2 linked regions of the Homo sapiens genome follow. The protein of the gene in region 2 purifies or fractionates together with the protein of the main gene of each other region. This does not show direct contact. Each region holds a gene or a part of one and is shown on either strand. Other genes may lie near its edges.

Region 1 (3,801 bases), on a different chromosome or scaffold from region 2:
ACTGGTGGGAGGAGCTAGGTTTGATGGACAGAGCTTAAGGGACAGAGCCAAGACTGATGATAGGAGGAGCTAGGTTTGATGGACATAGCTTAAGGGAAGGAGCCAAGACTGATAGGAGCTAGGCTTAATGGATAGCGCTTGAGGGGAGGAGCCAGACCTCGTGGGAGGAACTAGGCTTAATAGCGCTTGAGGGGAGGAGCCAGGCCTGGTGGGAGGAACCTGGGGGAGGAGCCAAGCCTGATGGGAGGAGCTAGGCTTAATCGACAAAGCTTGAAAGGAGCCAAGACTGATAGAGGGAACTTGGGAGGAGCCAGGACTGGCGGGAGGAGCTTGAGGGGAGGAGCTGAGCATGGTAGGCGTGGTCTAACAGGCAGTGGCGGGGCCTACCATGAGAATGGGCTGGTGCCTCAGGTCGGCCTCGCGCACCGGGCGCTCGGGCAAAGCAGGCACTGTGCCCCTCCGCGCCAGCAGGGCCAGCAGTGCAGAGGGGTTGGGGGGTGTTTCAAGCTGTGGCAGTGCCTGGCGCCAGGCTCTGCAGTAGAGCTCGGCTGAGAGCAGCAGCCGTGTCACCGGGGGCTTCACATGCTCCTGCGCGTACTGGTCGGTATAGAAGGGCTCCCACAGCTCCGGGGGCACGTGCTCTGTGGGGGCATAGAGGGGAAACACGGGGGTCAGGGTCACCAGATACAACACACACACACACACACACACACACACACCACATGGCCCGGATTAAGAGTGTGTCTGGACCAGGGAGGATGGCATTGGGAAAGGAGAAAGGGGATCTGGGCTGAGAGTGCAGATGTGCAGGAGTTTGCTGGAGGAAGGGGTGATGGCGTTGTAGGCAGAGGGGCCTGCAGATGCAAAGCCCAGCAGGTGGGAGAGAACACGGTGCCTCAGGGAGCTGATGGGCACTTAGAGTGGAAAGGAGGGGAGGCTACCCCCAATACCAGGCCAGCTGGACTGGCTCTTGTAGGTCCCAGGAAAGACAATAACATCGGCAATCCTAAGAGCCTTCCTGCTCTTGCCAATGTAGACTCACTGAGCCTTACATCAACGCTAGGAGGCAGCCAGGGCCCAATTGGCAACCCCCATGTTACAGAGGAGGAAACTGAGGCACAGAGAAGGAAAGTCCCTTGCCCCAGGCCAAATAACTCTTCAACACCAGGACTGGGGTTAGACCCAGCAAACTGGACGCCCTCTCTTAGCTTGCAGGCAGGGGGGGATGAGTGGGGGGCACACAGGCGAGCAGGGGAGGTGGGCACACCACAGGCACATCGAGGGAGTTGAGTGATGTAAACCTGGTGATTGAAGGGAGGAGGCAAGGGACAGAGAGGGAGGTAGCCAGGACCTTGCTGGGTCTGAGGGGGAAGAGGGAAGAGAGGGGTAATGACTGAGCTTGGGTGCAGGAGGAATGGGAGGTGAAGGGGTGAAATTGAATGTGAGGGGCTTTGAGGACATCCTTGAGGCAGATTATGTGAAAGGCTGGGGCTTAGAGAGATGGTGAGGTCACATCATAGAGACAGCCTGAGGTCCCTAAATAGGACAATGGGAAGAGGCGTGAGGAAGCCCCAGGTGGACAGTGGGCTGGGGGCAGAAATCCACGTAGGACCAAGAGTGGAGAGGAGAAGGCCAGGAAGGCTTGGCAGGGGTCGGGGAAGAGGTGACTGAAATCAACAGCAGGGAATCTGTCCAGCTCTTGTTCTAATCTGCACAGCTTTTGCGGTTTTTTGGAGATAAGAGTCTCTCTGTCGCCCAGGCTGGAGGGCAGTGGTGCAATCTTGGCTCACTGCAACCTCTGCCTCCCGGGCTCGAATGATTCTCCTGCCTCAGACTCCCAAGTAGCTGGGATTACAGGTGCGATGCTGCCATACCCGGCTAATTTTTGTATGTTGTAGAAACAGGGTTATCACCATTTTGGCCAGGCTGGTCTTGAACTCCTGACCTCAAGCGATCTGCTCACCTTGGCCTCCCAAAGTGCTGGGATTACAGGCGTGAGCCACCACGCCCAGCCTGCACAGCCTTCTCTGTTTGTTTGAGTTTTTGCTGGAGTGCAGTGGCACGATCATGGCTCACTGCAACCTGAACTCTGGGCTCAAGGGATCCTCCCTGCCTCAGCCTCCTGAGTAGCTGGGACCGCAGGCACGTGCCACCACACCCAGCCAATTTTTAAATTTTTTTATAAAGATGGAAGCCTCACCATGTTGCTCAGGCTGGTTTCGAATTTCCTGGCCTCAAGTGATCCACCTGCCTTGGCTTCCCAAAGTGCTGGGATTATAGGGGTAAGCCACTGTGCCCAGACTTGTTTTGTATATTGGGGTTCTGTGTGTGTGTTTGAAAGAACGGGGTGGGGGCCGGGTGCAGTGACTCATGCCTGTAATCCCAGCACTTTGGGAAAACAAGGTAGGCAGATCTTTTAAGGTCAGGAGTTCAAGACCAGCCTTGTCAACATGGTGAAACCCCATCTCTACTAAAAATACAAAAATGAGCTGGGCATGGTGGCACACGCCTATAATCCCAGCTACTCGGGAAGCCGAGGCCGGAGAATCGCTTAAATCTGGGAGGCAGAGGTTGCAGCCAGCTGAGATTGCGCCACTGCACTCCAGCCTGGGTGATAGAGCAAGCCTCTGTCTTAAAAAAAAAAAAAAGAAAGAAAGAAAAAAAAAGAAAAGAAAGAACAGGGTAAGGGGTTCTAGTGCTTCAGAACATATTTGAACGGGACTTCTCCACCTGTGAGGACCCAGGCACTCTTGGCTGCCTTCTGTCCCTCCCTGTCCTGGCTCCTTTCCCACCTTCTAAAACCACACTGGACCGTCCCACTTAACGCGCCACCCGCATGTAGACTTGGACCTTCTTTTTGCCCCTCTCATCTTGGCTCCTTGAAAGAAGAGGTATTTCAGGCTCACTTCCTCCCTGCCCTCCCAGCCCCCCTCCACCTCTCCCTCAATTTCCCTGAGCTCGATGCTGCCCTCATGGCTTCCGGTCTCCCCAAGGCCAGCAGGGACCTCCAAAGCATATCTGTGGGCCCGTATCTCGCCTGGGCTCTGTGCCCAGTGCCTCCTTCTTCCAGAAACCTTCCTCCCACAGGCGTCTCCTTGTAAATGGACATGCCCCACCCCCACCCCAGGCCACCCTACCCCGTGACGGCTTCCAGGGCCACCTGAAGACTGCAACAGCGGCTGCCACGGGCCCCACTGCACCCTGGGCATCTCCCACAATTCTCAACATCTCACCCACACCTCCCCTCCTCCCTGCCCCCAAGGCAGTGAGAAATCACCCTCCCTCCCTTTCTTTACGCCCTCACCCCACATTTAATGCGTCCTTGGCTTTCAACTTCCTGATATCTCCCAAATCCAAACCCTCCTCTCTACCTCCCCAGCCCCGGCCTTGGGCACGTCTTGCTCCCACCAGCAAAATCACACGTGTTTCTTTCCTACAGGACTTTTCAGGGCCTTTAAGATGAAAAACAAGAAACAAAAAACACCAAAACCTTAAGCTAGGGCTACACTGACATTTATCAGACACTTATTATACACCGATGTTCTTCCACCTTGGTTCATTGGTACTTGGGGCTGGAAAATTCTTTGTATTCAGGGGATGCTGTCCTGTCCTGTACACTGTGAGATGTTTAGCAAAATCTCTGGTCTGTATTTACTAGACGTCAGTAGTACATTCCTCCCAAGTAATGACAACCACAAATGTCCCCAGACACTGCCAAATGTCAATTAAGTGTCAAAATCATCACCAGTTGAGAACCACTGCCTTATACTATAAACTTATTCTATTTTTCTTTCCTTTTTT
Region 2 (4,407 bases):
TGACTCCAGGTGCCCCAGCCCTGGCTGCATGCGTCACCCATCCCTCTGTCCCTCCACTCCCTGCCCCCACCAGACTAGCCAGGTGAGGGACCCAGGAGCCTGACCCTTCCAATTGAATTACTGAACAGGAGAGCTCTTCCCACCGGCAGATCAAGCTGGGTAAGTGGAAGCCTGGGGCACGGGACCTCCCGACAGAGCAGGGCAGAGCCCACGATGCCAAGTGAGACAGATGGAGAGTGTCTTCATCCTATCCGAGGCTGGCCTCCTGTGGTTAACTCGTCAGCTCCAAGGCCAGGTGGGGTGGGCGCTAATGCCATTTGAAATCAGGAGAGTCCTCACTGAATCAGTTTAACGTTTTGTTTTGATTTTTTGTTTTGAGACGGAGGATGTTGCCCAGGCTGGAGTACAGTGGTGCGATCTCGGCTCACTGCAACCTCCGCCTCCCGGGTTCAAGCGATTCTCCCGCCTCAGCCTCCCGAGTAGCTGGGACTACAGGGGCGCACCACCACACCCAGCTAATTTTTGTATTTTTAGTAGAGACAGGGTTTCATCATGTTGGCCAGACTGGGTCTTGAACTCCTGACCTCAGGTGATCCGCCCGCCTCGGCCTCCCAAAGTGCTGGGATTACAGACGTGAGCCACCACGCCTGGCCCAGTTTAACATTTTTTGATAAAAGTAAATTTCATTTCATTCCAAGAAAGGTGTTAGACAACTGCTCGCCTCACTGGCCCTCTGGAGCCTGCCCTGCCCTGCTTCCCCCAGAGGAATACAATCCCTGGGGACTTATGACAACTGAACAGTGCAGAAGGAACCAGCAGAGGGAACCGCTGCCTTTCTTCATCACTGCCGGCAGCAAAAGCTGACTGGAAGCCATGTCCTAGTCCAGATCCGGGCATGCACACCGGCTGGTGTTGAGCAGGCAACTTGTGAATTGCAAGTCGATTGCATTGGTGGCTTTCCTGGCAGAGCTTTCGGATCTCAGTTCAGACAAACTCGTCAGCACACCCTGTCCTGACCTCCCCCTAAACTAGGGCTGGCCCTCTTCCGACCCCTTCTTGGCACCGTGCACTTTCCTTCCCTTTGTAGTGCTTATTATCATAATGCAAAGTCTATGTCTCCCCCACTAGACCCGTGAGCCATGTGAGGGCGGGGTGGCCACTGACGCCATTTGAAATCAGGGGAGTCCTCATTGAATCATTGCTTTTACTCTGGGTAAAAAGCCAGGGCTGGAGGGGCTGGAGTCGGGGTTCTCTCTGGTACAGCAGTATACTCCCAGGGCCTGGGACAGCACAGATGTATAGGAAACATCTGGCAAAAGGAGAGCTGGAATCCATGTCTGCCTGAATTACAGAGCTGGGCCCCGGGCCCCACCAGCACTTCCTGTGAGCAAGGCATTTGGTCTCACTTCTGCTGACAAGCAAAACAGAAGAAAAGATGGTCTCCAAAACCACCGCTATGCTGACCTTTGAGAATTTAGGGTGTCAAGACAGTGACCCCACTTTGTAGAATGGTAGGAAGCTTTTCCAGGGTGTGGGATGCAGACCCAGAGCAAGTGAGGAACCCTTAGACAGTCGTGCTCGAAACCCCAACTTTTCAGTGTGAAATCACTGACCCATATTTGCTGACTGAAGTTTTCCAAGTCTTTCAGCTTCATGGCATTTTGGGGAAGCAGGATGGAGATCATTACCTCCATCTGAGCAAGATGATGGCGAGGCTTGGAAAGCTGGCTCACCCTGTGTAGTCACCTCAAGCTGGCTCTGGACACAGGCTGCCTTTTCCAAAGGAGGACTGGAGCATACTTTGGTATAAATTGCTTGCACTGAATAATGATGTTAGAACCTACATCTCTGGGTTCAAAGGCACTTCAAGGGTCATTGCATTCTACGTCCTAGAAGTTGCAGTGCTGTATGACCACGGGCAAGTCACTGCACCTCTCTGAGCTTGTTTCCGTAATTGGTAAAATGGAGTGATTGAGAGTGATATGGACGAGCTGCTGGCACTGAGCTGCTGCCTCTTTCCTTTGCAAGAGTTACCATGCCCTGAATAAGATGGGCACAAGCTATTGGCTAAGAATTTGCAAAGCTGATTTGCATGTGATTTGCACATGGGTGTTTATCAGAACCCAGAGGTTCAATTTCAGAAGGCTGAGAAGCCAGCCCTGTTAAATCTCTCAACCAAGACTCACTGCGCCAGCTTGACCCAGAGACAGTGGCCCTCGCCTCTGCTCCCCCTCAGTGCTAAAGGGAGGCAAAAGGTGCTGAAGCTCCAGGGACTGCAGTGGGGTTACGGCCAGGTGATCTCCACCAATCCACTCACCCGGACTCCCTTACTCACCCCCCAGCCCAATCAAGCTGGTTGACTTCACTGTAGCTAAAATACTGCCTTCTGAGGGGCACGTTGGTGCATCTGGCTCTCTTTTACCAGCGGCCACCAGTGTCTCCACTGAACCTTGGGTGAGAAGCGGTAGACCCAAGGAGGACAGAGACCAAAGGAAGGAAGACAGGAAAGAAGGAAGGGAAAATGGCAGGCGGTTGAGGCCAAATGGGCGTCGGGAGGCAGGCAAGGGGCTCAGGCTCCCTCCTCCACCCCCGCTCCAGAGGTCGCTGGGGAGAGCATCGGGCCCTGGGCCAGCGCGGGGACGCTTGGAGCTCCCTCACGACCTTGGGTTCTCCGCAGGAAACGGGCCGGGAGCGCCCGGCGCCCTCTCACCTTTGACTTGCGTCTCATACTCAGCCTGCAGCCCCCGCTCCCGCCGCAGCTTCCCGTGAGCGGCCATGGCGGCCTCGCGGCCGCGCCGTCGAACCCCACTGCTCCCACGCGGCCGTGAGCGGGCCCGGCGCCGGGACTTGGGGGCGCTGCGGCCAGCACCCTGCGCGGGCTCCGCCCAGCCCCGCCCCCAGCGCGGCTCCCGGTGGGGCGGGGCGGCCCAGGGCTGGCACTGCCCGCGAGGGGCTCCTGGGGGGGCAGGGCGCCCCTTCCAGCCCCACTGTGCCCCGGCCTTGCCGTCCCCTCCCATTGGGCCTGCACCTAGGCTGCCTTGTGCCCAAAGCCCCGCTGCCAAGCAGCCGGAGCAGGTGTGAGAGCCCCAACGTAAGCTGGCATCCCAGGCTGCCATCCCACCACCTCCAGAAGGCTGTCCCTGGTCACCACTGCCAGACTGTACCATTCACAGCGGGGCCGCTGGCCCACTGTACCAGTGGCCATGAACACCATTGCTGCCCCAGGCTCTGGACTCCCCCTGGGTTGCCTCCTTCCCCCAGACATCCGATGGGGTCCTCCCTTCCCAAGTCAGCCCCCAGAGAGGCCCAGGGAGCCCCAGGGAGCCTTGAGAGCTGGGGTGGGAAGTTCAGAGGGGAGGGGGAAGGAAGGTCAGCACCAGAGAGCAGAACCTCAGCAGCTGGCTGCCGTTCCCTCCAGGCCCCCTTGGTAGGGGAGGAGAGTTCAGCTCCGGTTCCCCTTCTGCTCAGCCCCACAATTTCCCCATAGGCGGTTACCACTTCCTGCTGCCGGAAGAGACTGCTCTGCCTCCCTTCCCCTGCAGCTGCACCTGCCCGTCATAGGCCTGAGGGGGGCAGCCCCCTCGGAGTGAGGTCTTAGCTACCCTGGGGGCAAGTCTTGGGGCCCCCCTCATCCAGGGGTGGTGGGGCTTTCCTCCACCCTCTACCACAGGGCAGCAGCTTTTCTCCGGGAAATCGGGAAGGCGGGAGGCGGGAGGCGGTTGACAAGCCAAGCAGACAACTGGCTTCAATTTGGTGGGAGGGAAATCCCTGGGGTATAGATGTGGGGAGAGAGGCAAGGCACTTGGGCACCAGGCGTGTGTTCCGAAGGCGGGCGTGGGGGCACTAGTGCAGGGGTACTAGGCGTGTGTGTGCACGGATGTCAGAGTCAGGCTCTGTGCAAATGCGGGCACACATGACCTTGACCTGCAGATCTGGGGAGGGGAGGCTGTGCGGGTACTTCCTGCCTTTCAACTGTGAGCAATTAATTCTCTTGCCCAGAAGGAAAAAAACACTCCCTCAGCTCCCCGCCCCCTTCTCCCAGTACCAAGGCCCTTCTCGAACACGTCGTCGTGTGTGTCTGCAGGACCTGGGGCTTCAAGGCCTGGGAGCTAGCCAGACCCAGGACCTGGACTTCCAGCAGCTGGTCTCGGAAGTACCGATGTTCGAGTCCTCCAGCGAGACTAGAGAGCCTGCGCCCCTGCCCACAGCGCGTACAGCCGCACCCACACTCCAACCTGCTCCTGGTCGGGAGACTCACACGTCCCACCGCTGCCTCAGGCCAAGGGGAACCAGGGAGCCCCGCCTCTCACTAGCTGGCCCCAACACATCTTGCCCCTCCATCCGAGCCCTGACTGGTCCCCAAAGGTCCCTCCACCCAGCAGAGCCAGCCACAGGGCTCAGGCAGGC

What was found.
Region 1: the proteins of ARHGAP4 (region 2) and CAMSAP3 purify together in Homo sapiens (affinity purification with mass spectrometry, with the first as the bait; one large-scale study listed by BioGRID). This does not show direct contact.

What each region holds. Positions count from the first base shown.
Region 1 is NC_000019.10:7,602,066-7,605,866, reverse strand, and holds part of CAMSAP3 (calmodulin-regulated spectrin-associated protein 3), read right to left. Parts: intron 642-3,801; coding exon 388-641; intron 1-387. UniProt on the Homo sapiens protein: Key microtubule-organizing protein that specifically binds the minus-end of non-centrosomal microtubules and regulates their dynamics and organization.
Region 2 is NC_000023.11:153,923,426-153,927,832, forward strand, and holds the start of ARHGAP4 (rho GTPase-activating protein 4), read right to left. Parts: upstream 2,840-4,407; 5' UTR 2,778-2,839; coding exon 2,711-2,777; intron 1-2,710. UniProt on the Homo sapiens protein: Inhibitory effect on stress fiber organization. May down-regulate Rho-like GTPase in hematopoietic cells.